Linked DNA regions of Homo sapiens: region 1 is linked to region 2. Evidence: fine-mapped expression QTL. A gene starts in region 2. The other region holds a variant in brackets. All regions are shown on one strand. Distances are between the middles of the regions. Region 1 overlaps HELQ (helicase, POLQ like). Region 2 holds the start of ABRAXAS1 (abraxas 1, BRCA1 A complex subunit).

Region 1 (16,698 bases), 44 kb before region 2:
TTCTGACTTCATTAACTATTAGGCAGTCTCTCAATCTTTTTGTGGATTACAGAACCCTGTGAAAATCTTATCAAAACTAAGGAAAGGCGAAATGCGATGGCTCATGCCTGTAATCTCAGCACTTTGGGAGGTAGAGGCAGAAGGATTGCTTGAGCCCAAGAGTTCAAGATCAGCTTGGGCAGTGAAGCAAGACCACCTCTACAAAAAATAACAAAAATTAGCCGGGCATGGTGGTGCATGCACCTGCAGTTCCAGGCTATGGGGGAGGATGAGGTGGGATGATTGCTTGAACCCGGGAGTTTGAGGTTGCAATGAGCTATGAACCTACCAGCCTGGGTGAAAGAGCAAAGCCTTGTCTAAAAAAAAAAAAAAAAAAAAGGAAAAATATAACTATTTACATAAATACAACACTTTACATATAATTTCAGAGGGTTCGTGGATTTCCTAAAATTCATTCCTGTACTTCCTTTGAATCCATGGACACCAGGTTTAGACCTTTGCTCTGGATGTTATAACTGTTTTTTTCTTTATAACATATATCTTTATAGGGGATAGTTTTTTTAAAGACATAAATTTTCTTTTCTGAAGATGGAAACATACATATTATTAAATCATACTTCCATGGTAAAACACTGCCTAAACACTTGCACTTTAGAAACTTCACATCCTACAATGTTTCCATCACTTAGCCAGTGTCTCCATCTTATTACCTTGAATTACTCTAAGAAAATGAATGATTTACTGAGAATTTTTTTAATGATAATTTAATTTCCTTAAGCTTTTATAATCAAAATCATTGTAAAAGCAGACTGTTACCAAAATGAGCAACTCCTTCATCTTATTCCAAACATTTTTATATTTTGCTATTCAATAAATTTAAGTCTATCTTAGACCAATCCATGATAGTAGGATTGAAAGAGGAGGTAGAGGTTGACTAGATTAGCATTCAGGTTAATAGACTATGAATAGTGATACAGCATTAGCTAAGGGGCTGAAAGAAATCTCAGAAAATGATAAAACCACACATGGGACAAACAGGTGTATAAAAAACTGAACTGTTAGTAGTTAAAGTAACTTCATACTTATCTCTATGAATACGACAGAGCCAATATTAAGATACTACAAAATTATAAGACAACACATTTCTTACTCAGGAAATTATATCCAAATGTCCATACAACTAAGTGTGAAGTTTACTAAGAAAACAAAGGCAGGCCAGGCGCAGTGGCTCACGCCTGTAATTCCAGCACTTTGGGAGGCTATGGGGGGCGGATTGCTTGAGCTCAGGAGTTCGAAACCAGCCTGGGCAACATGGTGAAATACTATCTCCATGAAAATTACAAAAAATTAGTTGGGAGTGGTGGTGTGTGCCTGTAGTCCCAGCTACTTGGGAGGCTGAGGTAGGAGGATCACTTGAGCCCAGGAGACAGAGGCTGCAGTGAGCTAGCTGAATTTGTGCTACTGCATTCCAGCATAGGTGACAGAGTGAGACCCTGTCTCAGGAAAAAAAAAAAAAAAAAAGGAAAAGAGAAAAAAAGGCAATGGAAGATACAATTCATTTCCACAGTGGTAACAGTGATTAGTCCTTTGACTGACTAAGCCAGTTGTTCCTGTCCTTGGCTATATGTTGGACTTGCCTGGGGAGCTTTACAAAATGATATCTGGGTGTCACTCCCAGAGATTCTGATTTGTCTAAGATGTAGCCTGGACTTTGGAATTTTTAAAAGCCTCCAAGATGATTCACTATGCACCCAAGGTTTTGAATCACTGACCTAATATTACTTAACATTCTCATACATATAGTCTTAGGGTTTTGTCTTTTTTTTTTCCTTTTCTTTTTGAGACTGAGTCTCCCTCTGTCACCCAGGCTGGAGTGCAATGGTGTGGTCTCAGCTCACTGCAACCTCTGCCTCCCAGGTTCAAGTGATTCTCCCGCCTTAGCCTCCCGAGTAGCTAGGACTACAGGTGCACGCCACCACACCCAGCTAATTTGGTATTTTCAGTAGAGACAGGATTTCACTATGTTGGCCAGGCTGGTCTTGAACTCCTGACCTCATGATCCGCACACCTTGGCTTCCCAAAGTGCTGGGATTACAGGCATGAGCCACCGTGCCTGGTCTTCTTTTTTTTTTTTGATGGAGTCTCGCTGTGTCACGCAGGCTGGAGTGCAGTAGTGCGATCTCAGCTAACTGCAACCTCCGCCTCCCGGGTCCAACAGATTCTCATGTCTCAGCCTCCCCAGTAGCTGGGATTATAGGTGCAAGGCACCACACCCAGCTAATTTTTTGTATTTTTAGTAGAGATGGGGTTTCACCGTGTTGGCCAGGCTCGTCTCAAACTCCTGACCTCAAGTGATCCACCCACCTCGGCCTCCCAAAGTGCTGGGATTACAGGCATGAGCCATGGTGCCCAGCCACCTTAGAATGTTTCTCTGGCTATTTCACATGTGATTTTTCACAGTTAAAATTTCTTTCTTCAAGGTCAAGGCCTTCAGTATACTAAAACAACTTAATATGATGTTTTGCAAGGCATAATTAGTGTTTGCCCAATAAAATTAATACATAGTCTGTAATTCCTAATAAAAATAAAACAGGCTATTTAAAAAATATTAACATACTTGCTTAAAAATTTGCATATCATTTCTGCTACATTTTCACAGTTCTTCTTACTAGGACAAAAAACTAAGCAGGAATAATTGGGAATAACTTCTGTCACCAATGCTACCAAGTGATCAGGATCCATCTTTTTTAGGGTATCAGAATACTGCAAAACAACAAGATGTAGGAACAAAGTGGTTAGTAAACATGAAACCCTGTCAATTTTTTACCAGTGTGATTTGAAAGGTAAATAAACCATCTATAATTCTAAACTTCTAATTTAATAAATCTGATCATTTAAAAGAAAAGATGAAATCTATATTAAACATCAAAATGTTCAATCTCACTTTTCTTTTAGGTTATTATGATTTTCTTAGGTCTAGTTAGTCTAAAAAAAAACCTAGAATTAAACAAGTGAATTAAAGAAAATTAAAGAAGTGAAAATAGTTAATGTTATTAATAGCCTCACTACATGCCCATCTCCACCACAGCAGAACAAAAAAGTCCACAGAGAGAAACACAGATTGATCCTAATAATAGTTAACGGACTGTGTAAATAAGACATGCCCTTTACAACCATTAAGTTTTCAAAAACACAGATTCAATCATACTACTGAATTATGACAATTTTTGTAGTCACATGAGGAACACAAAGAACATGAAGAAAAAATGTGAAGTTATTTAAAATCTATTTCTTCAACTTTACTAAAGACATAGCTGTAGAATAACACATCTTCACAGAATTCTAAAACTACTGTATAATCCCTTCTTCCCCTTTTTAATATCCTTCATACAAGTCATAAAACACTAAAATTTACATAGTAGACATTAACATTTTATACACCAATATCTGAACTACATGGTCCATAAATTATTCTTTTGTTGTTGTTGTTGTATGAATAAACATTTACAGGAGAGTTTTCCAAATTTTCTTTGTTCACAGCCCCAGGGCCCAAAGAAATACTTTACAGTTTTGTTAATTAAATAGTGAGGTCCAAACAACTTAATAAATACGTACTTCCTCACAATTTAGTAGCTGTTAGAATAAATAATACACATCAGTTGAGTGAAAAAATATTTTTATTTCATTCTTAAATAACCACAACAGCTCACTAATGGGATGTGTGCACAACTTGGTACTGTCTTTCAAAATCTGAAATAAGACTGGACACAGCTATTCTCTTCTGTTCCAGATTGATTTTCACACGGTACTTGCTTACAGCAACTGTAAAAACCCCAACTTCACAAAGATATGATGTCATAGAAAAGAATATGGTGTGATCTAATGTTGAAACTGGAAACGAGCTATCTTGAACTGGCAGTCTGCATGGTGTCCAACAAATGTCAAGCATCAGCTGTTTCTCTGAAAAATCTAGACTATTCTACGGAATCCATTGGAAACTCTTGTTGTGCCCCAGACACAAAGTCTGGTAACCTGGAATTTAAATGTTATCAATGTTACCTTATAATTAAGAAGACGTGAAAAAGTCATGCCATTCTCAGCTTTGCTGTCAACTTCATATATTGTATCATTTATTTTCAGATATTCTTTTAACTCAACCTTGAATTAAAAGGACATTTGCAATTAATACGACATATAAATTCATCTTTCCAGTGTTTTAAATATTGTAAAATAGGTTAAGAAAGGACAGCTATAAAAGAGTTTAGCTTTTCTAAGATACATAAAACATGCTTCAACTTAAAAGTTCTTGCTTTACCATTTCTTCTTCTTCTGTTTTGGTCTCTTTTTCCCTTAAAATCAAAATAGAGATCAATATCCTTGAAGAAATATGTTTGAATTCAGTAAACATCATATCCAAAAAAGAAACCACACACTTCTGTATTTGTCACAAAAAGTGTGAGTCTTGGTGTTCTTAACTTTTACTAAGGTATCATCTGTTTTATGTCTCAAGATCTAAAACTTTGTCTTTTTTTTTTTTTTTTTTTTGAGACAGGGTCTCACTCTATCACCCAGGCTTGGAGTGCAGTAGCATGATCACAGCCCACTGCAGCCTCAACCTCCAGGGCTCATGCTATCCTCCTACCTCAGCCTCCTGAGTAGCTGGGATGACAGGCATGCGCTACCACGCCAGGCTAATTTTTATAGAGATGGGGTTCCTCTATGTTGCTGAGGCTGGTCTTGAACTCCTGGGCTCAAGCGATCCTCTTGCCACAGCCTCTCAAAGTGCTAGGATTACATGCATGAGCCACCGTGTCCAGCCAAAACTTTCTGTCTTATTATTCATCAGTTTTAATTCTAAATACCACCACACTATTTTTCTTTATTTGTCGACAAAAACAGTTTGTAAACACAGCTCATTGCATTTTATAATAACAATAACAATGTCTACTGTGGCAATTAAGTTAAAAAATATCTCTTGAAAATGTTCCTATCTGGTTCAAATGTAAAAACATCAATTTTTTTTTTTTTTTTTTTTTTTTTGAGACAGGGTCTCACTCTGTAGTCCAGGCTGGGGTGTAGCGGCACAAACACAGCTTACTGTATCCTCAACCTTCTGGGCTTAAGTGATCCTCCCATCTCACCCTCTCAAGTAGCTGGGACTATATGTGAGTGCTAATATGCTCTAATTTTTTTTTTCTCTCTCTTGCAAGGCTGGAGTGCAGTGGCGCAATCTCGGCTTGCTGCAACCTTCGCCCCACTGGGTTCAAGCGATTCTCCTGCCTCAGCCTCCAGAGTAGCTGGGACTACAGGCGTGCGTCACCATGCCCTGCTAATTTTTGTATTTTTTAGTAGAGTCGGGGTTTCACCATGTTGGCCAGGATGGTCTCGATCTCTTGACCTCGTGATCTGCCCACCTCGGCCTCCCAAAGTGCTGGGATTACAGGTGTGAGCCACCGCGCCTGGCTGCCCTAATTTTTTAATTTTTTGTAGAGACAGGGGTCTCGCCATGTTGCCCAGGCTGGTCTTGAACTCCTGGACTCAAGCAATTCTCATGCCCCGGCCTCTTAAAGTGTTGGCATTGCAGGTGTGAGCCACTGCACCCAGCTAAAACATCAAATTTCAAATTAAAATTTGGCAATTAAAAAAATATTTTCTGAAAACCTATTTAGACACTGAAAAACTATTGAGGCACAAAACATACACACTAGTAGTGCACACAAAAATATATATACATTACAAGCTATTTTCAAATAACCACAAATTACATTTGTTTACTTTCTTCAAGCATTTTGGGAATGCTGCTGTTGAGGAGTTTATATGTAAATCCATGTGAAGCCTTAACTTATTAAAAAAGTATTATAACTACTAACATATAAATATTTAAAAATATTTTAAATTTTAAGATATATTTTTTAATGTGCCAATAACTCAAAACATGTCTCACTAAAATTTTGCCAAATAAAAAAATTTAGTTTACAGAATAAGAAGTGAAAAAATAAAATGGGGGTTTGGGAAAACTCATTCAATGAACGTTCATTGACAGCCTGTGGGCCAGGCTATAGATACATTAGTGACCCAACCCAAGATCCCTGACCTATACACAAACTCTTAAATTCTCTATACACAACCTCTTATTAGCATATAGTCATGGTGAGTAAAATATGCCCCTTCACTACTCTACAGAATTCTTTAAATCCTATGTTTACTACTTTCATTTCTAAGTTAGATGAATACGAAACAAATCAATACAGTGCAAACCTTAGGTACATACTGGTCTAAATTGACTGGTATAATATTCTGCTTGAAGAAACTTTTGTAGGTCTTCAACATTGTTTAATGTTGCACTCATACCAATAATTTGAGTCGTTTCTAAAACACAAACAAACAAAAGCCAAAGTGTTAAGGAAAATATGTTATTTAATATATCATAAAGTAATTTTAGCAAGTCTTTTGTGCTCTGAATTCTTCCTGAGTGATTTGGGAAAGGGGTGGGAGAGGTAAGTAAGAAAAATACAAATAGCTGGGTGCCTGGCTCACATCTGTAATCTCAACACTTTCGGAGGCTGAGGTGGGAAGATCGCTTGAGGGCAGGACTTCAACACTAGCCTGGGCAACATAGTAAGACCTCATCTCTACAAAAAAATTAAAAATTACCTGGGCATGGTAGTGCACGCCTGTAGTCCCAGCTACTTAGGAGGCTGAGGTGGGAGGATCGCTTGAGCCCAGGAAGTCAAGGCTGCAGTGAGCCATGATTGTGTCACTGCACTGCAGCTTGGGCAACAGTGAGACCTGACCTCTTAAAAAAAGAAAACTACAAATATATTACCAGAGTATTAATCTGGCATTTGAAGAATGAAATTTTTCAGGTATCCTGAAAGTTACTACTTAGAAGTTTACAGAGTTTCAAACTTGGCAAGAACTAGGATATTAAGGCTTCTAAACAATAATAAATGAGTATAAATCTGCTTATAACTGTCTATCTGGATCCCCTTTACGAAGAGCTATGATATGTTCCACAGGTATGGCTATAGACAGATGTAGAGGTAGTAGGATAGAGGGCTAAATGCGTCTCGAACTCTTGGCCCATGAAAAGTCCTCTATGAGATCTTGCTATCAAGCTAACTTTTAATTTTATTTATTTATTTATTTTTTTGAGACAGAGTCTTGCTCTGTTGCCCAGGCTGGAGTGCAGTGGCATGATCTCGGCTCACTGCAACCTCCACCTCCTGGGTTCAAGCAGTTCTCCTTGCCCCAACCTCCCGAGTAGTTGGGACTATAGTTTTTGTTGATGTTGTTTTAAATAAAGGTGGAGTGAAGCTTATGAAGCCATATGACATCCTGGGCAATACAAAATGGCTGCTTTCTATAGACTTAACTATTGAATGAAAACCCAAATAGGCCTTCTTTGCAAATGTTTCTTCATTGCTCCTATGTCTTGAAATGATCATTCAAGAAACTCACTGAAAGAGGAATAAGTGGGAGTATCCTTCTCATTCCATAAGGATAGACTACAAAGCTGAAGAGGTGGGCATGGGGTCAAATCAAGAAAGGCTGTGCTAAGAAATTAGGGATTTATGCAGAAAGCAAAGGGGAGCTATTAAAGAATGGTAAACAGTAAAATAAACTAATTGGATTTGCATTTGGGAAAGATCATTCTTCTTGCGCTAAAGAAAGATGGATTTGGTGGATGAAGGGCAGTGGGTACACAGAAGAACTTGGTGATTTCTGTGGCAATCCAGGTAGAAAGGATGAGGTACTGAACTAAAGACTTAGTGGTAATGAGGGATAGGAGAGACAGAAGTAACAATATATTTATGAGGTAAACCAGATAGGATTTGGTTGCTGATAGAATATGTAGGACCCTGGCTTGGCTGGCTGGAGAGTGGTGGCTGAGAATTCAGGCTGAAGAACGGCTTTGAAGGAAATGAGTTTGGCTCAGACTAAGCCTTAGTTAGGCTTAGCTGTTCAGAGAATATTCAAATAGGGATGCCCTAAAATACAGGCTTGATGAAAGCAGGGACTATTTTATTCACTGCTGTATCCCTAGCACTTAAAATAGTGCCTAGCACACAGTAGGTGATCAATATTTTTTTGAATGAACAATTATAAAATGCTATAACCTGCTTAAATATTATTGCTGTTGAAATTTTTTAAATACTTTTTAAGATTTGACCTTTATAGTTAATTTTTCCATATATAAGGTAAATATTGCAATAGCATATCAATAGTAGGTTATGACATTTAGAATAAATTTTTCATAAACTTTAAAGACTACCTGATGCTGCAAAATAGCTCCTTAAACTGACCTATTTAAATGTATCGCTTTACAATATTATTATTATAATATTTATGTTATATGTATTATTATGGTGATGATGATGATGGCCACAGTAGCAGCAGCAAACCCTTACTGAATGCAGTGTGCTAAGCACTGCTGAATGCAATACATGTGTTAACTCACACTATCCTTACAACAATCCCATCAGGCTGGTACCATTATTATCCTTGTTTTACAGATAAAGAAACATAGAGGTTGAGGGATGTGCCTGGGCACACATAGCTAGTAAGTGGCGGATAATAATAGAGGACTTCTTCAAATACCAATTTCATTTACCTTCAAAATTCTATTCATTAGAAATTTTAAAACAAAGGCAAAAAGCTTAAGTATCTTGCTTTAGGTTACATACTGTAGCTAGTGATAGAATTAAGTATTTTATAAGTCTCTTGATTATAAATCAATTCATGACCTCATTTGAAAAAATACTTACTGCTAGTGTAGAGGATTTTTGCTAGGGTCATTTCCAGTGTAGCTCCACGGCTTCCTTCACCAATCATGTGCAACTTCGAGATTTTTTTTAAAAAGGACAGAGAAGTAAATCTTCATATAGTGCTCATATAAAACATGCATATATTCATATGAAATTTGTTTGTAAAGAGTTGCTTATAACTTTTAAGTATTTTGAATATAACAACTATAATACATGTATATTATTTCACTGGTATTTAGGTTAATGAGCTTTTGGTACAAAATCCTTATAAATCTGGGATTCATAAGTACTACTAAAAAAATTTTTTTTTTAAACGGAGTTTGGCTCTTGACCCCCAGGCTGGAGTGCAATGGCGTGATCCTAGCTCACTGCAACCTCCACCTCCTGGGTTACAGCGATTCTCCTGCCTCAGCCTCCCGAGTGGCTGGGATTACAGGCGCCCACCACCACGCCCGGCTAATTTTTGTATTTTTAGTAGAGACAGGGTTTCACCTGTTGGCCAGGCTGGTCTTGAACTCCTAACATCAAGTGATTCACCTGCCTCGGCCTCCCAAAGTGCTAGGATTACAGGCATGAGCCACCACGCCCAGCC[A/T]ATAAAATTGTATACTACACACATACGTGTTCACACTTCAAGAAACACTTGACACAAAACCAAATTTAAGATTATCAAGCATAGAATGTCTTCACCTATATTGTCTATATTTTCAAATAAATTTATTTTTATAGAGGTACTAAGGTACTAAGTAGATCCACACAATAACCAGAATAATAAATATTTAGTATAATAAAAATATTGACAAATTACAAAAGTATTAACCAACCTCGTCTACAACAACCAGACCCAGACTGTCAATTCTTCCAGTTTCAATCAAGGAGTTCACCAAGCTATGTCCTTTTTCAATAGTGGCAATATAGAGTGATTTCTTTTCCCTTCTTTTAGTTGGAGGAAATCTTCCTTTGCTTCCAGCATATTCTTCAACAAAGAAACCGAGTTCTATACCAAAACTTGACAAACCTGAAATCTAGAATATTAGTTAAAATAAAGAAAAATTGGCCAGGCATTGTGGCCAATGCCTGTAATCCCAGTACCTTGGGAGGCTGAGGCGGGAAGATCACTTGAGCCCAGGAAGGTGAGACCAGCCTGGGCAACACAGTGAGACCTCATCTCTATAAAAAATAAAAAATTCGCTGGCTGTGGTGGCACAGGCCTGTAGTCTCAGCTACTTGGGAAGCTGAGGTGGGAGGACTGCCTGAGTCCAGAGAATTGAGGCTGCAGTAAGCCTTGGTCATGCCACTGCACTCCAGCCTGGGCGACAGAGCAAGACCCTGACTCAAAAATAAATAAATAAACAAAACCAAAAAACACAAGTAAAAAACCCCCCATTAGGTGCTCATGGGGTTCAAAAAAGCTAAAGTAGTGTTTAATACCCATCAACAGGAACAAGGTCACAGGCAAGACATACGTAAGAAATGCTGTAATGTCTCGATCTTTGCAAAATAAATGCAACTTCTAAAATACATGTGAAAATAAATTTCAACTGGCGCCTTTGATACCAAAAAGCATCAGGGGTGTGTTGGCTCATGCCTGTAATCTCAGCATTTTAGGAGGCTGAGGCAGGTGGATCACTTGAGGACAGGCGTTTGAGATCAGCCTGGCCAACATGGCGAGACATCATCTCTACCAAAAATAAAAAAATTAGCCGGGCGTGGTGGCGTGTGCTTGCGATTCTGGCTGCTGGGTGGGGTCGTGGGGCATGAGAATTACTTGAGTCTGGGAGGTGGGGGTTGCAGTGAGCTGAGATCATGCCACTGCACTCCAGCCTGGGTGATAGAGCAAGACTGTCTCAAAAAAAAAAAAAAAAGCATCAGAATAACTCATTTTAGTAATAGTTTCTGCTTGAAAAAGCAAGGTAAGGCCGGGCACAGTGGCTCACACCTGTAATCCCAGCACTTTGGGGGGCCGAGGTGGGAGGATCACTTTAGGTCAGAAGTTCGAGACCAGCCTGTCCAACATGATGAAAACCCATCTCTACTAAAAATACAAAAATTAGCCAGGCATGGTGGCACACACCTGCAATCCTAGCTACTTGGGAAGCTGAGGCAGGAGAATCACTTGAACCCAAGAGGCGGAGGTTGCAGTGAGCAGAGATTGTGCCACTGCACTCCAGCCTGGGCGACAGAGGGAGACTACATCTCAAAAAAGAAAAAGCAGGGTAAATAGTAATAGAACATTTAAGATGATGTTTAATCCACCAGTTTAGAAAAAGTAAAACTTTCAACAACTGGTAATTAGTATTTGAAGATATTTTAGGTAGTGTATACTGCTTTTATACATTCTAAAAATATTAATTCTCCATCATTAAGAGGTACTTCTCACCAGGCGCAGTGGCTCATGCCTGTAATACCAGCACTTTGGGAGGCTGAGGCGGGTGGATCACTGGAGATCAGGAGTTTGAGACCAGCCTGGCCAATATGGTGAAACCCCGCCTCTACTAAAAACACAAAAATTGGCTGGGTATGGTGGCATGGGCCTGTAATCCCAGCTACTCAGGAGGCTGAGGCAGGAGAATCGCTTGAACCTGGGAGGCGGAGGTTGCAGTGAGCCAAGATGGTGCCACTGCACTCCAACCTGGGTGACAGAGCAAGACTCCATCTCAAAAAAAAAAAAAAAGAGGTACTTCTCAACAATACAAAGTTATCACATTTACAGATCTTAACGTCAAAGTACTAGCAAATAACATTTGTTTTAAAACATACACACACACACACCTTTTCTTGGACAATTGCCACATATGGAAGAATCATTAAAACATCTTTCCGACAGCAAAGCAGTTCTTGCAGCATTAAAATCTCAGCCACGAGGGTTTTTCCACCACTTGTTGGCAAGGAATATATTAAATTTTTTCTTTCTTGCACAGAATTCAATGTTAAACAAGTATGTTGCCATTCTGTGGAATTAAAAAAAAAAAGGCATTATTTTCCCCTTCCAAACTTTGAAACTCAAAAGTTTTCTAAGAAAAAAAATCAAATCCCTTCCTGTGGAGCAATCCTCTCATAAGGATAAATTTAATTATAACCAATGTTACATGTCAAAAATCCCAAATGTGCAAGTAGTACAGCCAGTGAGAGCCTAGTTCAGGCCTAGGCAGCAAGGTGGGCAACCAGCCCATTTATTCACCAGCTGCAGACTTGGGTCCAATATTACAGCAGGGCAGGTAGCAGCCTCGTGGACAAGGAGTGCCATCTGAGATATCAGAGGAACAAAGGGACAGTACAAGGACCTGTGTGAATTCGAATGTCTTCCTCTTATGTTCTGCAAGGAGATTATATAAGCTTCCCTTCCTCATTCAGCCAAAAGCCATCTCAGAGAGAAGCAGGGGAAGGAGGGAAACAAATCTATTAGGTTTTACACAAACTAATAAAAACTTTAACTAGCTCTCATGGAGACCTGAACTTCGAATGGGTCCAAAACCATTTTAAACTGTTAAAACTCTTTAAACCACAAAAGACTAGGATTATTAACTGACACGCCTAGGATTCCCACAATTTGGCAAGGCGGGATTCATGAAAATAGATCAGATCCAAGATACCGTGTGAAAACTAGTATTAATTACTCTGTAGGATAATCTGACAATAAAAATCATCAGAAGTCTTTAAAAATGTGCTTCAGTGTTTTATCACTAGAAAAATGGGCAAAAAATTTAAGACATTTCACAGCAGACGGCAAATGGCCAATAAATACATGGCCAATAAGCAGCAGAAATGCAAATGGCCAATAAATACATGAGAAGATGCTCAGCTGTTCTCTACTGGGTTGGCAAAATAAATTTTTAAAATAAAAAACAAATAACTATCAAAAAAAAAAAAAGCCCCACACATGCAAAATCCAGAGCTGACTAATGTGGGGAAAAACAGCCATTTTCATGTACGGTTGTGAGAACATAAACTGCTAGAATCCTTGTGGAAAGTAACCTAGTATAAAATAGAACTGCACATTGCCTTTGATCTGGTAGTATTACTTTTGGGATTCTACATCTATAGAACGGAAGCCAAAGCATATAAAACACAGCATTGTTTGTAGGTAACAAAGTGCCATGGTGGTGGGGGTAAAGGCCGAATGAATTATTGTACAATCAACCAATGAGATTCTTTGCAGTTTAAAAATGAAGAATAGATGGATCTATGTATGTTCAATATACAGTTAAGTTTAAAAAAAAAAAAAAAAAAAAAAAAAAAAAAAAGCAGATCATTGCCCCGGAGTGGTGGATCATGTCTGTAATCCCAGCACTTTGGGAGCCTAAGGCAAGAGGATCACTTGAGACCAGGATTTCAAGATGAGCCCATCTCTATTAAAAAAAAAAAAGAAAGTTATATCTGAATGACAGTTACAAGTAACTTTAACTTATTGTGCTTTTGGGTGATTCCCAAATACTACAAGTGACTGTGAATATTTTCTTTAAAAATATTTCAAAAATACTTAAATTTAATATTCAATAAATATTGAAAAATACTTCAGATTGGTATCACCCGAGTTATCAAATTAGATGTTTATGCCAAAGTATAACTTAACCATAGCCACATTTTATCCAATTCAGATTTTTAAGCATAACATGACAAAATAACTAATATTTATGAATACAATCTTCACATCAAAAAAAAAAAAAAAAACTAGCCGGGTACAATGGCTCATATCTGTAATTCCAACCCTTTGGGAGGCTGAGACAGCAGGACTGCTTAAGCCCAGGAGTTCAGGACCAGCCTAGGCAACAAAATGAGACCCTATCTCTACAAAATATAAAAAAATTAGCTGGGTATGGTGGCGCATGCCTATAGTCCCCACGACTTGGGAGGCTGAAGTGGGAGGATTGCTTGAGCCTGGGAGGTTGACGCTGTAGTGAGCCACGATCACAGATTGCCAGGTCGTATTCCTAGAGGTTCTGACGCAGTAGGTCTAGGGAAGTGTCTGAGAACATGCACTTCAACAAATTTCCAGGTGATGTTGATGCTGCAGTCCAGGAACCACACTTGAGAACCACCGCTTTAGCTTAATAAAAAGTAGCACATGCATTTATGCTTTAATCTGGTCATGTTATTAAGCCAGATTTAGAGGTAAAAAGATTTAAAAAGTTGTTATTTACTGAAGTTCTTACTTAGAAGCTACCAATGTAATTACTGACAATCATTACCAACATCTAATTTGGCATGTCCTTAACACAGACTCTAACTTGCAAAAAAAAATTATCCCTTTTTATAGATGAGGAACTAGGCCCAAAGTGCTAAGGTTGCATTTTTAAGTGACAATCCCCAGCAGTTGAGAACCTACCAGAGTATACCAGGCACAGTGCTAGTTAAGAAAAAGATGAGTTAGGCCGGGCTCGGTGGCTCACGCCTGTAATCCCAGCACTTTGGGAGGCTGAGGCAGGCGGATCACAAGGTCAGGAGATCGAGACCATCCTGGCTAACACGGTGAAACCTTGTCTCTACTAAAAATACAAAAAAAAAATTAGCCGGGCGTGGTGGCGGGCGCCTGTAGTCCCAGCTACTGGGGAGTCTGATGCAGGAAAATGGCGCGAACCCAGGAGGCGGAGCTTGCAGTGAGCTGAGATGCGCCACTGCACTCCAGCCTGGGCAACACGCGAGACTCCGTCTCAAAAAAAAACAAAAAAACAAAAACAAAAACAAAAAGATGAGTTAGATAGAGCCTTGTCCTCAGGATATTCATTCTGGCAGACTAAACAAAAAGCAAGGTGCTAGCAGAAAAACAGAGGGAAGAACAGAGGGAAGAAAGTTAACGTCTACTTCCAGGGCAACACACACCATTAGCTCTTAAGTCATGAACCTCACAATTTGGATTCTTGTAGAGTCTTTTATTAGACTTTGTTTCCTGTAGTTCTGCTTCTCCAACCTGATTGTCTTCTCTGCAAGAACCCAAGTTTTCATATCATTCATAAGATCCTAACAGGAGTTCCAGAAAACTTACGAAGTGGAAGGTTGATGGGGCTGACCCTCCAGTATGGCAGCAACTGTCCCTTCTTGGTCTAAAATGACACATATCTGAAATATATGCAAGGACCCTGGATTTTTGAAAAACATTACAAGATACCTTCTTAATATTATTGCTTCTTTGCACTTAAAACAAGTTTGTCCAACCCACGGCCCTCATGAGGCCCAGAATGGCTTTGAATGTGGCCCAACACAAATTTGTAAACTTTCTTAAAACATTATGAGATTTTTTTTTTTGCAATTTTTTTTCTTGGCTCATCAGCTATCGTGTTACTGTATTTTATTGTGGCTCAAGACAATACTTTTTCCAAAGTGGCCCAAGGAAGCCAAAAGATTGGACATCCCTGACTTAAAACTTAATTGCAGCTGTCTTTAAAGATGTCTAGCTTTGGGAAAGGCAGCACAAGGCAGAGCATCTGGGTGGTGGCAGGGATGCACCCGTGGGGAGAGGTAGCTGCGGCTGCTGGTGTGGGGGGAAAGATGTTTGGTTTAATCAACAGTATTACTAATAACTGACTTCTTTCACTCAAGACATGTGAGTGTCAAAGACATACCACAACAGCTAGGTTTTGGTAGAGAAGACAGAGCCAGCCAAGGAAATACAACTAAGAAAGCTGAGGATCTCTACTAGACAATCGGGGTCAAAAAACAGGAGTGGTTGTAAGGACATCCAGAAACAAGAATTTCAAGAAGGGTGTAGTCAATAGCATCAGGTAAGTTATTGAGAAGTCAGGTAAGGTAAACATTAAAAGTAACACTGTGTTTAGACGTCTCAGTCATCAGATCTTAAGTGAGAGAATGAGAGCACAGAACCCAGAATTAGAGTGGGGTAATTTACTAAAGTTCTTACTTAGAAGCTACCAATATAATTATTGAAAATCATTACCAACATTGAATTTGGCATGTCTTTGAACCAGAATCTGACTTGCTAACAACTTATTATCCCTTTCTTATAGATGAGGAATTAGAGGAATTATGTCAGGTAAGGAAACAGACAGAAAGGATAACTGGTTTGATAAGTGTGACTGTGAGGGAAGGAAAGAGGTTCAGTGGTAGCAGGACAGGTAGGAATGGAAGGGGCTGAGAGATCACTGATCTTTTGTTTTCAAAATGAGAAACAGTATGGACCATGAAAGCATTTGCTTCTATTTACTTGCACTAATATTATGGTAATGATAGGAAAAAAATTTTTTTATTCCAGCAAAAAGCATTACCATATAATTTTTCAATTCCCTTGAATTGGGCATAAAGGTCTCTCACTTTGCTGGGTAATGAATAAAAAGGACCAAGGTCATTTGATGATGACTCAACTGTTTTCTTAGCAACATTAATTTCCTCAGATAGGAGAGTGTCTTTGAGCTGTTTACTTCTAGAAAATATTGGTGTCTGGGCCTTCGCATTTCCAGTCATGGCATTTTTTAGATGATCTTTAATACTTTTTCTCCTGTTCATATCTGAACTAGTTCTGACTTTGGAAGAGGACTCATCATTTTGCTGGGGTTGCTCTATGCAATTATGGGGCAGTTCCTCATTCACAGTGTTGTGAGAGGATGACTTCCAATCCCTTTCTTTCATAGAATGATCACCCAAATCATTTGAAGAGTTCTGCAAATTTTCAAAGTATATAGCCTGTGAGGAAGGTACATCATACAAAAGATCAGCTCCAGGTTCAATAGTGACACCTTCATATCCACTCTGGTTCTCTGTGTGCTTATCAGTTTGTAATTCAGTAAGGTTGCCTATGGTAGTAATGCTGAGTTTGTTTTTGATACTTTCCGAGCAAAGATTTTCAGTGGCAAAGTCTGTAGCATGTTTCTTATGTTCAGGGAGTTGCATATATTTTTGTTCCAGGTCGTCAACTTGAGCTATAAAGGAGTTTTCAGTAAAGCTATCATAGTCACCAAACATGTCCACTTCACTGTCATTA
Region 2 (16,244 bases):
GAACCTGGGAGGCGGAGGTTGCAGTGAGCCGGGATTGCGCCACTGCACTCCAGCCTGGGCAACAGAGTGAGACTCTGCCTCAAAAAAAAAAAGAAAAGAAATGAAAAATAATATTGTAGAGGATTATGCAACATTGTAAAGTGATCATGACACAATATGATGCCAAACCTTTTATAAAGTACACTACCAATTTTGTTTAAAAATACATACACATATATAGAGAAAAACTATATTAGACAATCAGAAAACTCCCTATACATTTTATTTCTTTTAACCATTTTTTTCCCTATGCATTTTAAAGGTTCTCCCCTGCTTTTCCCTAAAAGAGAAGCTGCCACCAGTTATAACTGCTTTAGCACCCACTCCTCAAACCCTTTACAGCCTGGTCTCTTCCCCATTACGCTCCAGAAATTACTGAGGATTTTCAGTCATCTAATAATCTAATTACTGCATTTTCTCAGTTCTCATCTTCCAACTTTTCTGCAGCATTTAACATTTTATCTTTTTCCTTGGTCTTCCTATTGCCGGGCCATCTTCCTACTAAACAGCAGGTGTTTCATCCTTGTTTCCCTGGCAGTAATCTTATCTGCTTCCTAAGTCTCATACTATTTCTTACTTTAGACCAGTCCATGGTCATAATTTTAACTGCAAAATGAGTACAACATATCCTTTTAAATTATTTTAAAATTAATATATATTTCTTATTTTTCTTTTTTTGAGACAGAGTCTCGCTTTGTTGCCCAGGCTGTAGTGCAGTGGCACAGTCTCGGCTCACTGCAACTTCTGCCTCTCAGGTTCAAGCAATTCTCGTGCCTCAGCCTCCCAAGTAACTGGGATTACAGACATGCACCACTACACCTGGCTAATTTTTGTATTTTTAGTAGAGATGGGTTTCACCATGTTGGCCAGGCTGGTCTCAAACTCCCAACCTCAGGTAATCCGCCTCGGCCTCCCAAAGTGCTGGGATTACAGGTGTGAGCCACCTTGCCCAGCCTCTGTATTTCCTAATTTAAAAATAATAATTTACGCTGACCCCTTTCAGCATAAACTATCAAATATAGGAGACACAGATGATTCAAATATAGGAGAAATAAATAACTCACCAATTGTATAAACAACTTCAACATCATCCATTTGGGAATCAGTAATGCTGTTCTTGGCTTCACCTTTTACTTCCCCAAGAAGAAAACCTTCCTATGAAGATAAAGAGGCAATATATAGAATACACTGATAGAATTACTGTTCACTTAACTAACCGTATTTCCTGAGTATTTTACTATGTATACAATATGTGCTACCAGTCGGGGGCACATATGAAAGATCTGAGATGCTTCTAGTTTACTTGGGAAAGATGAAGAGTTAAATAAAAATGAGAAGAGGCTAGGCAAGATGGCTCACGCCTGTAATCCTAGCACTGGGAGGCCAAGGTGGGCAGATAGTTTGAACCCAGGAGTTAAAGACTAGCCTGGGCAACAGGGTAAAACTCCGTCTGTACAAAAAATACGAGAAACATTAGTTAGGCATGGTGGCACATGCCTGTAGTCCCAGCTACTTGGGATGACGTGAACCCAGGAGGTTGAGGCTGCAGTGAGCTATGATCACGCCACTGCACTCCAGCCCAGGCGATAGAGTGAGACTCTGCCTCAAAAGAAAAAAAGTAGAAATAAAGAGGAGAGGAAGGGAAAGAGATTAGTCTAGCCTGAAATAATCAGAGTAGCCCTGGGGAGGCTACAGATTAGCCCTGTAGCCCTGGGGAGGCTACAGATTAGACTAAAGCTATGGGCAATATTTGTGTAGGCAGAGCATGAAGCACTGGGCACACTTGGAAGCATATAAGACTTAAAGCCAGAAATGAGCACACACTGAAGAATGAGCAGAGCACTTTGCCTTGGAGCAGAAGGAAATCAAAGATAAATAAGAACGAGCCAATAATGGGACACCCCGAATGACTACTCTGGATTTAACCACATGTGCTTCTGGGAGTTACAGAAAGCTTCTAAGGTACGAAATGACAAGATTAGTGTTTTCTGATTAAAACTCATGCACAATATGAAAGATTTAAATTCAATTTCAGAGTCTGCTTTCTAAAAGGAGTGCTGTGAGCCCGATTCTTTTAAAACTACTTGTATTCTGCCACCCCAGTGGTAATTTATCTGAGTTTTGGGGAATTCAATTTCTCTAGGCACACTTAAAGACCCAATGTGCTTGACAATGAAGATTTTATATCTTTTTTTTTTTTTTTTTTGAGAAGAGGTCTAGCTCTGTCATCACCCAGGCTGGAGTGCAGCGGTGCAATCACTACTCACTGCAGCTTTGACCTCCCAGGCTCAAACAATCCTGCTGCCTCAGCCTTCCAAGTAGCTGGGTCTACAGGCACGTGCCACCACGCCGGGCTAATTTTTAAAATTTTTTTGTAGACATGAGGTCTCCTTATGTTGCCCACGCTGGTCTTGAACTCCTGGGCTCAAATGATCCTCCTGCCTCCGCGTCCCAAAGTGCTGTGATTACAGAAATATTTTATATTCTTTATAATTAATAATGCTTTTTTCCCCTAAAAGTAAAAAAGGATTATTTCCATAATGTGAGTCTTTACTGGAATCACGCGGGGGGATATCCAGAATCTAGTGTTCTTGATTTTGATACTCAAAAGACGAACTCAGGGAAGGGAAGCAGGGGGGCAATGCAAGTGCAACTAGCCAGAAAAACCACCCTTTAAAGACTTCAGGAAAAAGATCTGAGAAACAGGGGCCTCCCTAGCACTCAGGTACTTCCCAAGGGCTAATCGTTTAAGCTACCGAGGATTTACGGTCCCACTCTATCTACACTACAGGTATTCCAAAATAATTTCCACAGCTACACATATATTTTAAATGGTCATATATTTGTTCTTTATTAGGTATTACTTTGTAAGGTTATCTGAAATTGTATACATAAAACATACCAATTCCAACCTTTATTAGGATTGTGCCAAAGAGCAATTTTGTAATGTTTAGATTTTGTAGAGACCGGGTCTCACTACGTTGTCCCCGATGGTCTCGAACTCGTGGGCTCAGGTGATTCACCCGCCTCGGCTTCCCAAAGGGCTGGAATTACAGGCGTGAGCCACCGCGCCCGACCTATATTAAGGCAATTTTGAGTAAAATAGACGTTATATCTTAAAATGAACTTAGCAGAAATTACTAGGCATTGTTCAGCAGGGTATTCTCCGAACTGTACCACACAGCAGGGAAGTGTATTTCAGATGCTTAGACTTTCTTTCTGCAAGTTACTGAAAGTGCTACAGGACATTAACTACTTCCGAGCTCAACGTTTTACAGCGTTTCTTTAATTTCATAGAACTTTTAGAAAATAGGCAACGTACTTTTAAAAACTGTTTTAACAAATTTAATAACGCAAATAAAAAGATATCTGATATACCAGATTAAGCTGTTCCATCCACTAAGATTTGCCACTGGACGCAACATCTATTTTTATTCCCTTACCATCCTACCATCGCAACAAACACGCACAGACGCTGCTCTGCATGAAAAAGTCCGCCTGGTTTTGCAAACGCCTGTCGGGCGTCGCGAGAAACGGAAAGTTTACCGCAGGCTCCGCAGAGCAGCGGAAAGACGCTCCGTGAACTTTCCATCTTTTCACGCCCAAGTTTCCACAGCTACAGGGGCGCCGAGGAAAGATGGGAGCGTGTGGGACACTTGGGTCGGAAAAGGGAAATAACGGAGGATAGCAGAGGGAGGGCTAATGCTGGAGAAGACTTCGTGGGCACGAGGCACCTCAGGGACCGCTGAGGGGGAGAGAAGGCAGAGCCGCGACCGCAGGGAGGAGGCGCGGCGGCGTCGGGGGAGCGGGCGGGGACCGGAGCAACAGCGGGGAGGCAGGCCGCGCGCAGGGCTCTTCCCAGGCGACGCCGGACCCCGCCCCGTCCCTCGGCTCACCGTGTCCGAGTCCGTGTTGAGGTGCTGGAAAGCGAGTGCGCCGAGCACAAAGCCCGAGAGCACCGCCGACGTACTCTCCCCCTCCATGCTACCGCCGCCTCAGGCTACACAAGAGGACGAGGGCGGGGCGCGCGGAGGCAAGACCCTGTGGTGGCAGCGAGGCGGGGCCCAGCGAGGAGGCGGGGCCTGCGCCGGCGCACGGGCTGCTGCGCGCTCCGCAGAGGGGCGGGGCGAGGGGGCTGAGGGCGGGCGCGGGCGGGTCCCCAGCCGCGCGCTCGGCTCCTCCTTCGCTTCTGCTGCCGGCCTCTCCCGGAAGGCCGCTGCATGTCGGTACCACTGCAGAGGGCTGCGAATTGCTTTTGGTGGCCTGCGCCTGCTGAGCGACCTGTCACAAACATGCAAAGCTATCAAAATGAACACGGTTGACAGGGTCATTTTAAGACAAGCAATGATTACAAGAATAAAAGAGTTGAGTAGCAACATTACGATGCCACAGTGGATATGCCACGGTTTTGGTTTTCAAGCTGCATTTTAGCACCCTTCACTCACTGAAACTTACAGAATACTAATAACCATTTGGGGATTGTCTTTGCTAGAACTCTCTAGCCATGTTCTGTGTCTGTGTGTTTGTGTGTGTGCATGTGTGTGTTCCCTTGCTTTTAGAAAACTTCAGCCTAATTTAAACAATACATGGATATTTAATGTTCTGACAGTTTAATGATAGGCATAATCATAGTAAGCTGGTTCATTTAATGTAAATGGTAAGGTGAGTGGACCAGGGCTTGGCAAATGTATTTTACACACACACACACACACACACACACGTAAAGGTATGTTTCTTAAATGACTGAAAGTAAGCATAATAGCAGACTACTGAATTAGTGTGGCACATTTGTGGGTTTTGTTGTCAAGCAGTTGTCTGTGGCTGCGTAACACACAATACATATGTATATAATTAATGATTATATATTTATTCCCTAGAATTAAGTTTCTTGCCTTCATTTTGTAGGGGTGAAGGGAAAGCTCTGCCCTCTGAAGGTTCACTGGAGTGAACTAACAAAAGAAAAGATGAACAGAAGGAAAAGGGATACGAATTTATTTTATTTTTTATTTTTTTGAGACTGAGTCTCGCTTGGTCACCCAGGCCAGAGTGCAGTGGCACCATCTCAGCTCACTGCAGCCTCCACTTCCCGGGTTCAAGCGATTCTTCTGCCTCAGCCTCCTGAGTAGCTGGGATTACAGGCACGTGCCACCAAGCCCGGCTTATTTATTTATTTTTTTTGTATTTTTATTAGAGACAAGGTTTCACCATGTTGGCCAGGCTGGTTTCGAACTCCTGACCTCGGGTGATCTGCCCCCTTCGGCCTCCCAAAGTGCTGGGATTACAGGCGCTCCCGACTGGCATACAAATTTATTAATGTGCCCTGGAGAAAATCACAGTAGAGTGATTACCCAATAATCCAATGAGGTTCAGATGCTTATGTACACTTTTTCATAAGGGAGAGGGAGATGGAGGAATGTAAGTAATTTTGAGGATCACAATTGATTCTTTGGATGAGCTTGAGGGATTGCTTGCAAAGAATTCTTTGTGGAAGTTGGATGAGCCCAAACAGCAGTCAATAACTTAGTACAAAGTTCCTCTGGGCTCTAGATTTGATGTTTGACTTTCAGTCTTCTTTCCACAGTCAGTAGATAATGAAATTTCAATGAAGGGGTGGAAGACAATTGTCGTAGGGTTGATAAAGAGTGGACAGTCGTGCAGGAGTATGATTACACAAAGGGAGTATGATGTAATGGTAACAAACTGGGGGAACTTAGAATGGGCTGTTTGTTCAGGTTCTTCTCTGTGTCCTGGTGTCTTCAGAGGTAAGGATATTCCTTTTCTCTATGTAAAGGGAGGGTACCTCTCAAATGATGGTCTTATGACCTACTTCAGGGAAGGACACCGGGTTTTATGGCCTGCCTCAAGGGAGATGGCCAGAGTATTCTTTCTATGGTTTATGGCCTGCTTCAGGGCAAAAGGAGTGAGGGGAAGGTGCAAATGACCTCTTTGCTCTGCTATTTTCTCAAATGCTCAGGTGCTATATTTTGGAGTAGTGTGTCCTGAACCACATCACTAGTTTTACTTCCTGCAACCCAGAGCAGCACAGTAGCTGAACCAAATACTCCTTCGGAAGCCAAAAAAGCTTGGGTATGAGTGGAGATAAGGAGAAATAGTAGATGAGAGTAAAGGAATAAATAAACGGGTTATATAATGAGGGAAATCCAATATTCATTAAGACCTCCAAAGAAACTCAAAGCAAGGGATGATATTGTCTCTTATCTTAATTATATCAGATGCCTGAAATAATGAAGATATATATTGCTAAGAACTCTGCTTTTGAAACCTGAAAAGATCAAATGGAAGCCTGAGTGGCCACACCCTGGGAGGCATTTTCTTTTCTTTTTCTTTTTTTTTTTTTTTTGAGACGGAGTCTCGCTCTGTCTCCCAGGCAGGAGTGCAGTGGCATGATCTTGGCTCACTGGAAGCTCCACCTCCTGGGTTCACGCCATTCTCCTGCCTCAGCCTCCTGAGTAGCTGGGATTACAGGCGTCCGCCACCACGCCCGGCTAATTTTTTGTATTTTTAGTAGAGACAGGGTTTCACCGTGTTAGCCAGGATGGTCTTGATCCCCTGACCTTGTGATCCACCCACCTCGGCCTCCCAAAGTGCTGGGATTACAGGCGTGAGCCACCGCGCCCGGCCTGGCATTTTCATATGATAGGCTGATGGACTGGACAGGTTATTAGTAATTGAATGGGGTTTTAGAAATGTGCAACTATCTTTTAACTCTTATGATTCTTTGCTATAAGGAATCAGTGGTCAAAGATCAAGGATTTGTCTGTAGTATAGTAAAAAAGAAAATAAATATTTAGTCTTTGTCCTGAGTTCCTGGCGTGGGAGCTTCTAAAACCTTAGGAATTTACTGGTTTTTGTATGCTAAAGAATGACTCATGGGAGAGTGTATTCGTCCCTTCTTGCACTGCTATAAAGAAATACCTGGCCGGGAACAGTGGCTCATACCTATAATCCCAGCACTTTGGGAGGCTGAGGTGGGCAGATCACCTGAAATACGAGTTTGAGACCAGCCTGACCAACATGACAAAACCCCATCTCTACTAAAAATACAAAAATTAGCCAGGCCTGGTGGCGTGCGCCTGTAATCCCAGCTACTTGGAAGGCTGAGGCAGGAGAATCACTTGAACCTGGGAGGTGGAGGTTGCAGTGAGCCGAGATCCTTCCACTACACTCCAGCCTGGGCAACAGAGTGAGAATCTGTTTCAAAAACAAACAAACAAACAAAAAGATTGGGCACAGTCACTCATGCTTGTAATTCCAGTGTTTTGGGAGTCTGAGCAGAGAGTATGGCTTGAGGTCAGGAGTTTGAGACCAGCCTGGGCAACATAGCAAGACTCTATGTCTTCAAAAACTTTAAAAAATTAGGCCAGGTGCGGTGGCTCATGCCTGTAATCCCAGCACTTTGGGAGGCCAAGATGGGTGGATCACGAGGTCAGGAGTTGGAGACCAGACTGCCAATATGATGAAACCCCGTCTCTACTAAAAATACAAAAATTAGCTGACCATGGTGGTGGGCACCTGTAATCCCAGCTACTTGGGAGGCTGAGGCAGGAGAATCACTTGAACCCAGGAGGCGGAGGTTGCAGTGAGCTGAGATCACGCCACTGCACTCTAGCCTAAGTGACAGAGCAAGACTCCATCTCAAAACAAAAACAAACAAACAAAAAATTAGTCCAGGTGTGGTGGCTCGTGCCTGTAATCCCAACTCACGCCAGTAATCCCAGCACTTTGAGAGGCCAAGGCAGGTGGATCACCTGAAGTCGGGAGTTCGAGACCAGCCTGGCCAACATGGTGAAACCCTGTCTCTACTAAAAATACAAAATTAGCGAGGTGTGGTGGCGTGTGCCTGTAATCCCAGCTACTCGGGAAGCTGAGGCAGAGGTGCTTGAACCCAGGAGGCCAAAGGTGCAGTGAGGCAAGATTGTGCCACTGCCCTCCAGCCTGGGCAACAGAGTGAGACTCTGTCTCAAAAAAAAAAAAAAAAATTAAAAAAGTTAGTTGGCCAGGCACGGTGGCTCACACCTGTAATCCCAGCAGTTTAGGAGGCTGAGGTGGGAGGATTGCTTGAGCCCAGGAGGCAGAAGTTGCAGTGAGCTGAGATCATGCCACTGTACTCCAGCGTGGGCCAGACCCAGTTTCAAAAAAAAATCAGTCAAGTGTGGTAGTGCACACCTGTAGTCCCAGCTACTGGGGAGGCTGAGGCGGGAGGATTGCTTGAGTCCAGGAGCTTGAAGCTGGAGTGAGCTTTGATTGTGCCACCTCAGCCTGGGAAACAGAATGAGACCTTGTCTCTTAAAAAAAAAATTAGAAAGAAGAATAACTATGAAAATAAGAGAAACATTTTAGCTGCTGTATTAGAATCATGTTAATGATAGGGTTGATTGCTTCAGAAGGATGTGCTTGCTTGCTTAAATTGGGATCCAATAATATTCATCTCTGTTAAATTTTTGGTATTCTATTTTAAATAGGAGGGTTAATGGAACCTCAAATAATTGCAAGAAAAAACTGTATCTTTTACTTTTCTATTTGAATTTTTAGATATTGATTTTTTTCGCATGAAAAGGATAAGAATATGATTTTTAAGTAATGATTTCACTCACAACAGATCAACTTTTAAACAAATATGCTTGCAAATAAATGAGTATCATAAAGGGAAATATATCTTATCTTCATAGCATATTATTAATTATACTATTTATTCAAAATGAATGGAGAATGTGATGGCCATGGACATGCTCCACTCTGGTTGAACCTGCTGGGGGAGCCACGGTTGGCAGAAAGCCTCCCACTTCAGCTCCTGTGAGCATTGCTGCCCTCTAACCTTCCCTGCCACAGCATCAGTGACCATGGTGGGGTATTAACACAGGCCCATTCTTATAAGATGCAGGATTCCTGTAATGGGACTTTGGCTCAAGGACTCTCCATCAGCCTGGCTAAGATTATGTTAGCTTGCACTGAAGTCTGAGACTCCTATCCTTCCCTTCCTCCTTTCCCAGGTGTCAGATAAGCATGGTTTTCTGCAGCCTCTCCTTGCTTACTCCTGCTCTCTTCCCTTTATCTTTCACAGACATTTCCCCAATAGGTCTCTCTCTTGCACATGGACTCCTGTCTTTGTGTCTGCTTTTCAGAGCATCAAAAGTGAAACAAAGTGCTTGCTTTTCCATATCACCTATAAAGGGCTTTCAGAGCCATAAAGATCACATTTTCAAATATCTGCCAATTAAAAAAAACTTCAAATACAAACATACTCAAAATATAATATGATGAATTTCATTTTTTAATTATAGACATGATTTATTTCTAATGGTGAACAAGTATTATTTTAATTTTTTTTTTTTTTTTTTTTTTTTTTTTTTTTTTTTTTTTTTTTTTTAGACAGGATCTCAATCCTGTTGCCCAGGCTGGAGTACAGCTGTGTGATCATGGCTTACTGCAGCCTCCACCTCCCAGGGTCAAGCGATTCTCCCACCTCAGCCTCTTGAGTAGCTGGGATTACAGGTACATGCCACCATCCCTGGCTAATTTTTTGATGGTTTGTTGAGATGGGGAGGTCTCACTATGTGGCCCAGGCTGGTCTCGAACTCTCGAGCTCAAGCAATCCTCCCGCCTCAGTCTCTCAAAAGGCTAGGATTACAGGAGTGAGCCACTGCACCTAGATAAGTATTATTTGTTAAGGCTATGTTATCTGGGAAATACTATTATAAACACATTTTGTTTTCTTTGTAATATTTTTGTGTATTAAAAACGTAATGAGAGTTTTAAAAATCTCTGATAAAACTTGATATAACTCTAAGATTATAGACACAGAAATAAATTTATCTGAGGTTCCAGGGAAATTTGAAGATGTATTAATGTGATAACATTCCAACTTGTTATTATTTCATTCCATCTGTTAAAGAGGCATAAGGAAAATTACACAAACACCGTTAAGAAATATGCCCCCTCAGGATGCACCTCTACCTGGTGACCTGCAGGGGACACTGTGATAGTAGTTCTGAAGGAAAAGGCCTTTGATTGGGGTTCAGAGATTATTATTATGTAAAAATAGTTAATAGGGCTTAATCTGTTATAATGTGTTAAAATAGGCTACTTTGAAAATCCATGGTGATTTAGTAAAAATGACTTAAATGCTGTATCTTGGATAAGAATCATTGTTTTTTTTTTAAAAAAATACCCTTGCACATCCACAAATATAAAAACAATAGAACTCTGGCAAAGGAGATAAAGTAACTGCAGAAATAGTAGTGCTGACTGATGCTTTAAGAATTATTGCAGACAGGGTTAAGAAGCTAATTTGAATTCCAACAGAGTCCTCCTTAGGATAAATTCCAAGACCAAAGTAAAAGTTTCAGCAGTGTCAGTTCAGCTAATCCTGAGAAGGCATTCAGATAGAAAATTCCAAGAGGCATTAGTTTGATCTGAGCTTGTATGGACAACTCTAGGTATAAGGTTGTTTCTGGTAGAAAATTAATTTCTATAGCTTCAGTGAATAATTTACGCTAGTTTAAATAATGAATAAGTGACTGGCTTGGGTTAAACAAAAAAAGCACCTGCCTCTGGGTGAGGTGGCTCACACCTGTAATCCCAACTACTAGAGTGGCTGAGGTGGGAGGATTAATTGAGCCCAGGAATTTAATGTTACAGTGAGTTATGATGGCACAACTGCACTTTAGTCTGGGCAACAGAGCAACGTGCTGTCACAAACAGACAAAAAGTATGTTATATATTTATATAATGAAATAAGAGAAAGTTCCCATAATCCTTCCATCCAAAGATATTACAGTGAATGGTTTGGCTTATATTCTTTCAGGTTTTTATCTATTCATATGTGTATTAATGTATATAGGTATTTGTGTATATTTTGATTATTATATTATATTACATTATATTTATTTATTTTTTTGAGAGATTCTCACTCTGTTGCCCAGGCTGGAGTGCAGTGGCACTATCTCAGCTCACTCCAGCCTCTACCTCCCGGGTTCAAGCGATTCTCCTGCCTCAGCCCCCAAGTAGCAGAGACTACAGGTGAGCACCATTCCCAGCTAATTTTTGTATTTTTAGTAGAGACGGGGTTTCGCCATACTGGCCAGGCTGGTCTTGAACTCCTGAGCTCAGGTAATCCTCCTGCCTTGGCCTCCCAAACTGCAGGGATTACAGGTGTGAGTGAAAATCATTTAAAAATCAAAATCTATTTTCACTTTTAAAAATACATATTATACTTTATTATTAATTTTTGTAATTTAAACTTATTAATGGGGTTCAGGACACACCACCCCAAAATAGGACTGTAGAATCCAGAATGTGCTATCCCAAATATGCCTCTTTGTCATAAGAATTATTTTGAGCTGGTTATTTTGAGAAACGACAGACATAGGAGCAGTTCTGGAAAGTTACCCTTTTGTAAGAGAAATTTAAAGCTATAAAGGAAATATCTATTTGTAAGTGTATCTCCCTCTCTGAATCAGGAAGAGAAGGACGACTAAATCTTTAGAGACTTAATCATTGGAAAAGGCATCACCTTAATCTGTATTAAAAAAACTTACCCTGGATTTATGATATCTTTCCTGGCCATGTCATTTTTTTTTTTTTTTTTTTGAGACTAGGTTTTGCTCTGTTGCCCAGCTTCTCACTACAGCCTCAGTCTCCTGGGTTCAAGTGATCCTCTCGCCTTGGCCTGCCAAAGTGTTGAGATTAGGTATTACAGTTGTGAGCCACTGTACCTGGCATTTTGGTTCTTAATTATTGAACTGCTGGGCATAGTTGGGCACAGCTAAGTGTTTCCTGGATTTTTTTTTCTTTCCCTAGGAAAATTCTCATCTCTTAAAGGGCAAAAATCTTGCTTTCCACTTTCCTTATGGTCATGAATTCACAGCTATTGACTGCCTGCTTTACATCAGGCACTGTGCTAGTTGCTGGAGGTACATTGAATAACAAAATAGAGATAGTGCCTGCCCTAATAGTATTTATAATCCAGTGGGGGAAAGGAAAATTACATACATCATCTCTCATATGATGACATAATTACGATTCTAATAAATACGTAGTAGGAAAAATAGAAAACTAGAAGCAAGGGTAACTGAGATACCCACTCCCCTATTGCTGGGATCAGAGAAAGTCTTCTCAAGGACCTGGATACTTGGGAAAAGGAAAAGAAGTGGGGAGGAGTGTTCTCAGTTAAAGGAACACCATGTGTGAACACCCTGAGGCAATTAGAAGATTCTAAAACCTGGAGTGTGAGAGGGAGGGAGGCAGGAGGTAAAAGCTGGCTAGTGAGAAGGGCCAGACCATGCTGGCTGTTGTAGCATAGGATTTTAGAATTTGTCTTTTTGGTTTTGAAACAAGGTTTCACTTTGTTGTCCAGGCTGTGGTGCAGTGGCACGATCATGGTTCGCTGCAGCCTCAACCTCCCTGGGTTCAGGTGTTTCTGCCCCTTCAGCCTCCTGAGCAGTTGGGACTACAAGCATGCAACACCACACCAGGCTAATTTTTGTAGCAATAGGATTTCGCCATGTTTCCCAGGCTGATCTCCAACTCCTGGGCTCCAGCAATCGTCCCACCTTAGCCTCCCAAAATGTTGGGATTACAGGTGTAAGCCAACACGCCGGGCCCAGAATTTATCTTAAAAGAGTGGAAACAGCCAGGTGCGGTGGCTCACACCTGTAATCTCAGCCCTTTGGGAGGCCAAGGCGAGTGGATCACCTGAGGTCAGGAGTTTGATACTAGCCTGGCCAATGTGGCAAAACCCTGTCTCTACTAAAAATACAAAAAATTAGCCGAGAGTGGTGGCAGGCATCTGTAATCCCAGCTACTTGGGAGGCTGAGGCAGGAGAGTCACTTGAACCCAGGAAGCAGAGGTTGCAGTGAGCCGAGATCGTGCCACTGCCCTCTAGCCTGGGAGACAGAGCAAGACTGTGTCTCAAAAAAAAAAAGAAAAAAAAAAGAAAAGAAAGAAAGAAAGAAAGAAAGAAAGAAAGAAAGAAAGAAAGAAAGAAAAAAAAGGCCATGCGTGGTGGCTCACGCCTGTAATCCCAGCACTTTGGGAGGCCGAGGTGGGCGGATCACAAGGTCAGGAGACTGAGACCATCCTGGCTAACATGGTGAAACCCTGTCTCTACTAAAAATACAAAAAATTACCTGGGTGTGGTGGCATGCACCTGTAGTCCCAGCTACTCAGGAGGCTGAGGCAAGAGAATTGCTTGAACCCAGGAGGTGGAGGTCGCAGCGAGCTGAGATCACGCCACTGCACTCCAGCCTGGGCGACAGAGCAAGACTCAATCTCAAAAAAAAAAAAAAAAAACAACATTGTGGAAATGGCCGGTGGCCCAGGCCTGTAATCCTAGCACTTTGGGAGGCCGAGGCCAGGAGTTGGAGACCAGCCTCACTAACATGGTGAAACCCCATCTCTATTAAAAATACAAAAATTAGCCAGGCATGGTGTCAGGCGCCTGTAATCCCAGCTACTCCAGAGGCTGAGGCACGAGAATCGCTTAAGCCTGGGAGGCAGAGGTTGCAGTGAGCTGAGATTGCACCACTGCATTCCAGCCTGGGCAACGGAGTGAGACTCTGTCTAAAAAAAAAAAAAATATATATATATATATATATATATATATATATATATATATATAAACATGTATATATATATATAAACATGTTTATATATATTTTTTATATATGTTGATATATATGTTTATATATAAATATTTTTAAAAATTATATATAATTTTTATAAATATATTTATATATATATTTTTAAAAATTATATATAATTTTTATAAGTATATTTATATATAAATATGTATAAATTATATATAATTTTTATAAGTATATTTATATATAAATATATATAAATTATATATAAATATTTAAAAAATATATAAACATGTTTATACATTATATGTTTATATATATTTTATATATAGTTTTTATATTTTTATATATAAATATATATTTATGTTTTATATATAAACATATATAAAATATATAAACACATATATAATATGTATAAACATATATATAAAAAACATACTTAAAAAAATTAAATTTAATTATAAAAAGATACTGAATGGGCTGGATGTGGTGGCTCACGCCTGTAATCCCAGCACTTTGGGAGGCCGAGGTGGGAAGATCAGTTGAGGTCAGGAGTTCGAGACCAGCCTGGTCAACACAGTGAAACCCCATCTCTATTAAAAATACGAAAATTAGCCTGGTATGGTGGCACACTCCTGTAATCCCAGCTACTAGGGAGGCTGAGGCGGGAGAATTGCTTGAACCCAGGAGGCAGAGGTTGCTGTGAGCCAAGATCGCTCCACTGCACTCCAGACTGGGTGACAGAGCCAGACTCTGTCTAAAAAAAAGAATACTGAATGGATAGAAGCTAAAAATGCTACAAAACTCATCTAATTAGTTGCTGTCAATATTACATGTTTTTTTCGTTTTTTAAAAAATAATAATTGTATACATTCATGGGCTACGTAATGTTTTTTTTTTTTGGGGGGGACGGAGTCTCGCTCTTTTGCCCAGGCCGGAGTGCAGTGATGCAATCTTGGCTCACTGCAAGCTCCACCTCCCGGGTTCACGCCATTCTCCTGCCTCAGACTTCCGAGTAGCTGGGACTACAGGGGCCCGCCATCGCGCCCGGCTAATTTTTCGTATTTTTAGTAGAGACGGTATTTCACTGTGTTGGCCAGGATGGTCTCAATCTCCTGACCTCGTGATCTGCCCGCCTAACCTCTAAAAGTGCTGGGATTACAGGAGTGAGCCACGGCGCTCGGCCCTACATAATGTTTTAATACAAACAATGCATAGTGATCAGATCAGGGTAATTAGCATATTGGTAATTTCAAAGATTTATCATTTCTTTGTGTTGACAACATTTAATATTGTAAGAATTAAAGAAAGAGGAGAGAAACACAAAGGATGGCTTTTCAGTCAACAGGGGCAGGTTTATTTTAAATAAACCTGAGAAGGGCGGTTGGCTGAGTTAGGTCAGAGCCACACTCTCTAACAGACTAAGAGTTTCTAAAGATTCAGGATAGGAGAGTTTATAAGAGGCTTGGACTGCTTCTGTGTCTCTTTGTTGTGCTTATCTGGGAGGGACAGTTGCGTTTCTATTCCCATACACCTTTTTGCAGCTGCAGGCATATCCCCCAAGTCTGCTTTTAGCTTCTCTATCTTAGTATTCCTGAAGGGAAAGAAAAGTGCTTATTAAGGCCCACTGTCTTACTGGGGCCCATTGTATGAGGGTGAAGTTTGGCAGTTACCCAAGAGACTTTCTCCTCACCTCCCTCTGTTTCCAAGCGGTCTTATCTGTGTTTTACTGTCTGCTCTTTCTGGCTGCTTGTAGTTAGAAGAGAAGTGATTTCCTTGAAATGCATGAGGCTAGAAAGGGAGCTGGAACTTAAAGTGGTGGTGTTTGTCCGAGATGACGGTGCTCCTGCTCTAGCAAATATCCTGCCAGGCGTAGTGGCTCACGCCTGTAATCCCAGTACTTTGGGAGGCGGAGGCTGGGGGATCACCTGAGGTCAGGAGTTTGAGACCAGCCTGGACAACATGGTGAAACCCCATCTCTACTGAAAATACAAAAATTAGCTGGGCATGGTGGTGCACACCTGTAATCCCAGCTACTTGGGAGGCTGAGGCACTAAAATTGCTTGAACCGGGGATGTGGAGGTTGCAGTAAGCCAAGATTGCACCACTGCCCTCCAGCCTAAGTGACAGAGCAAAACTCCATCTTAAAACACACACACACACCCACACAAACACACACACACAGAGCAACATTCAATATCCTCTCTTCTAGCTATTTGAAACTATACAACGCATTATTGTTAATTATAAGCAACCTGCAATGCTGCAGAGCACTAGAACTTATCCTCCTATCTAGCTGTAATTTTGTATTCTTTAGCAAATCTCTACCTATCCTCCCCTTCCCAGTCTCTAATATCCTCTGGTTCCACATTTTACTTCTATTAGATCAACTTTTTTTAGCTTCCACATGTGAGTGAGAATATGCGGTATTTAACTTTCTGTTAAGATCATTTGCCTACTTTATAATCAGACGTTTTCTTGTTTTGTTTTTTGCTATTGAGATGTTTGAACTCTTTGTATCTTCTGGATATTAATCCCCTGTGGGATGAGTAGTCTGAAAATATTTTCTCTGATCCTGTAGGTTGTCTTTTCACTCTCTTGAT

Evidence for each region. PIP is the estimated chance that this variant, and not a neighbour inherited with it, causes the effect.
Region 1: its variant is fine-mapped to the expression of ABRAXAS1 in whole blood (TOPMed, PIP above 0.99). The same link has a PIP of 0.9 or more in blood mononuclear cells.

What each region holds. Positions count from the first base shown.
Region 1 is chr4:83,437,246-83,453,943 of GRCh38, forward strand. It overlaps HELQ (helicase, POLQ like), which reads right to left. Exons shown (of 18, transcript NM_133636.5): 2 at 15,986-16,698; 3 at 11,538-11,716; 4 at 9,590-9,790; 5 at 8,769-8,841; 6 at 6,272-6,369; 7 at 4,060-4,158; 8 at 2,618-2,763. Among named protein-coding and RNA genes, the nearest start is that of HELQ, 10 kb to the right of the region's middle. The variant A/T (reference allele first, on the strand shown) is at 9,361.
Region 2 is chr4:83,481,051-83,497,294 of GRCh38, forward strand. ABRAXAS1 (abraxas 1, BRCA1 A complex subunit) reads right to left here and starts at 4,050. Exons shown (of 9, transcript NM_139076.3): 1 at 3,936-4,050; 2 at 1,104-1,194. The coding sequence starts at 4,022. RefSeq lists a silencer at 3,776-4,265.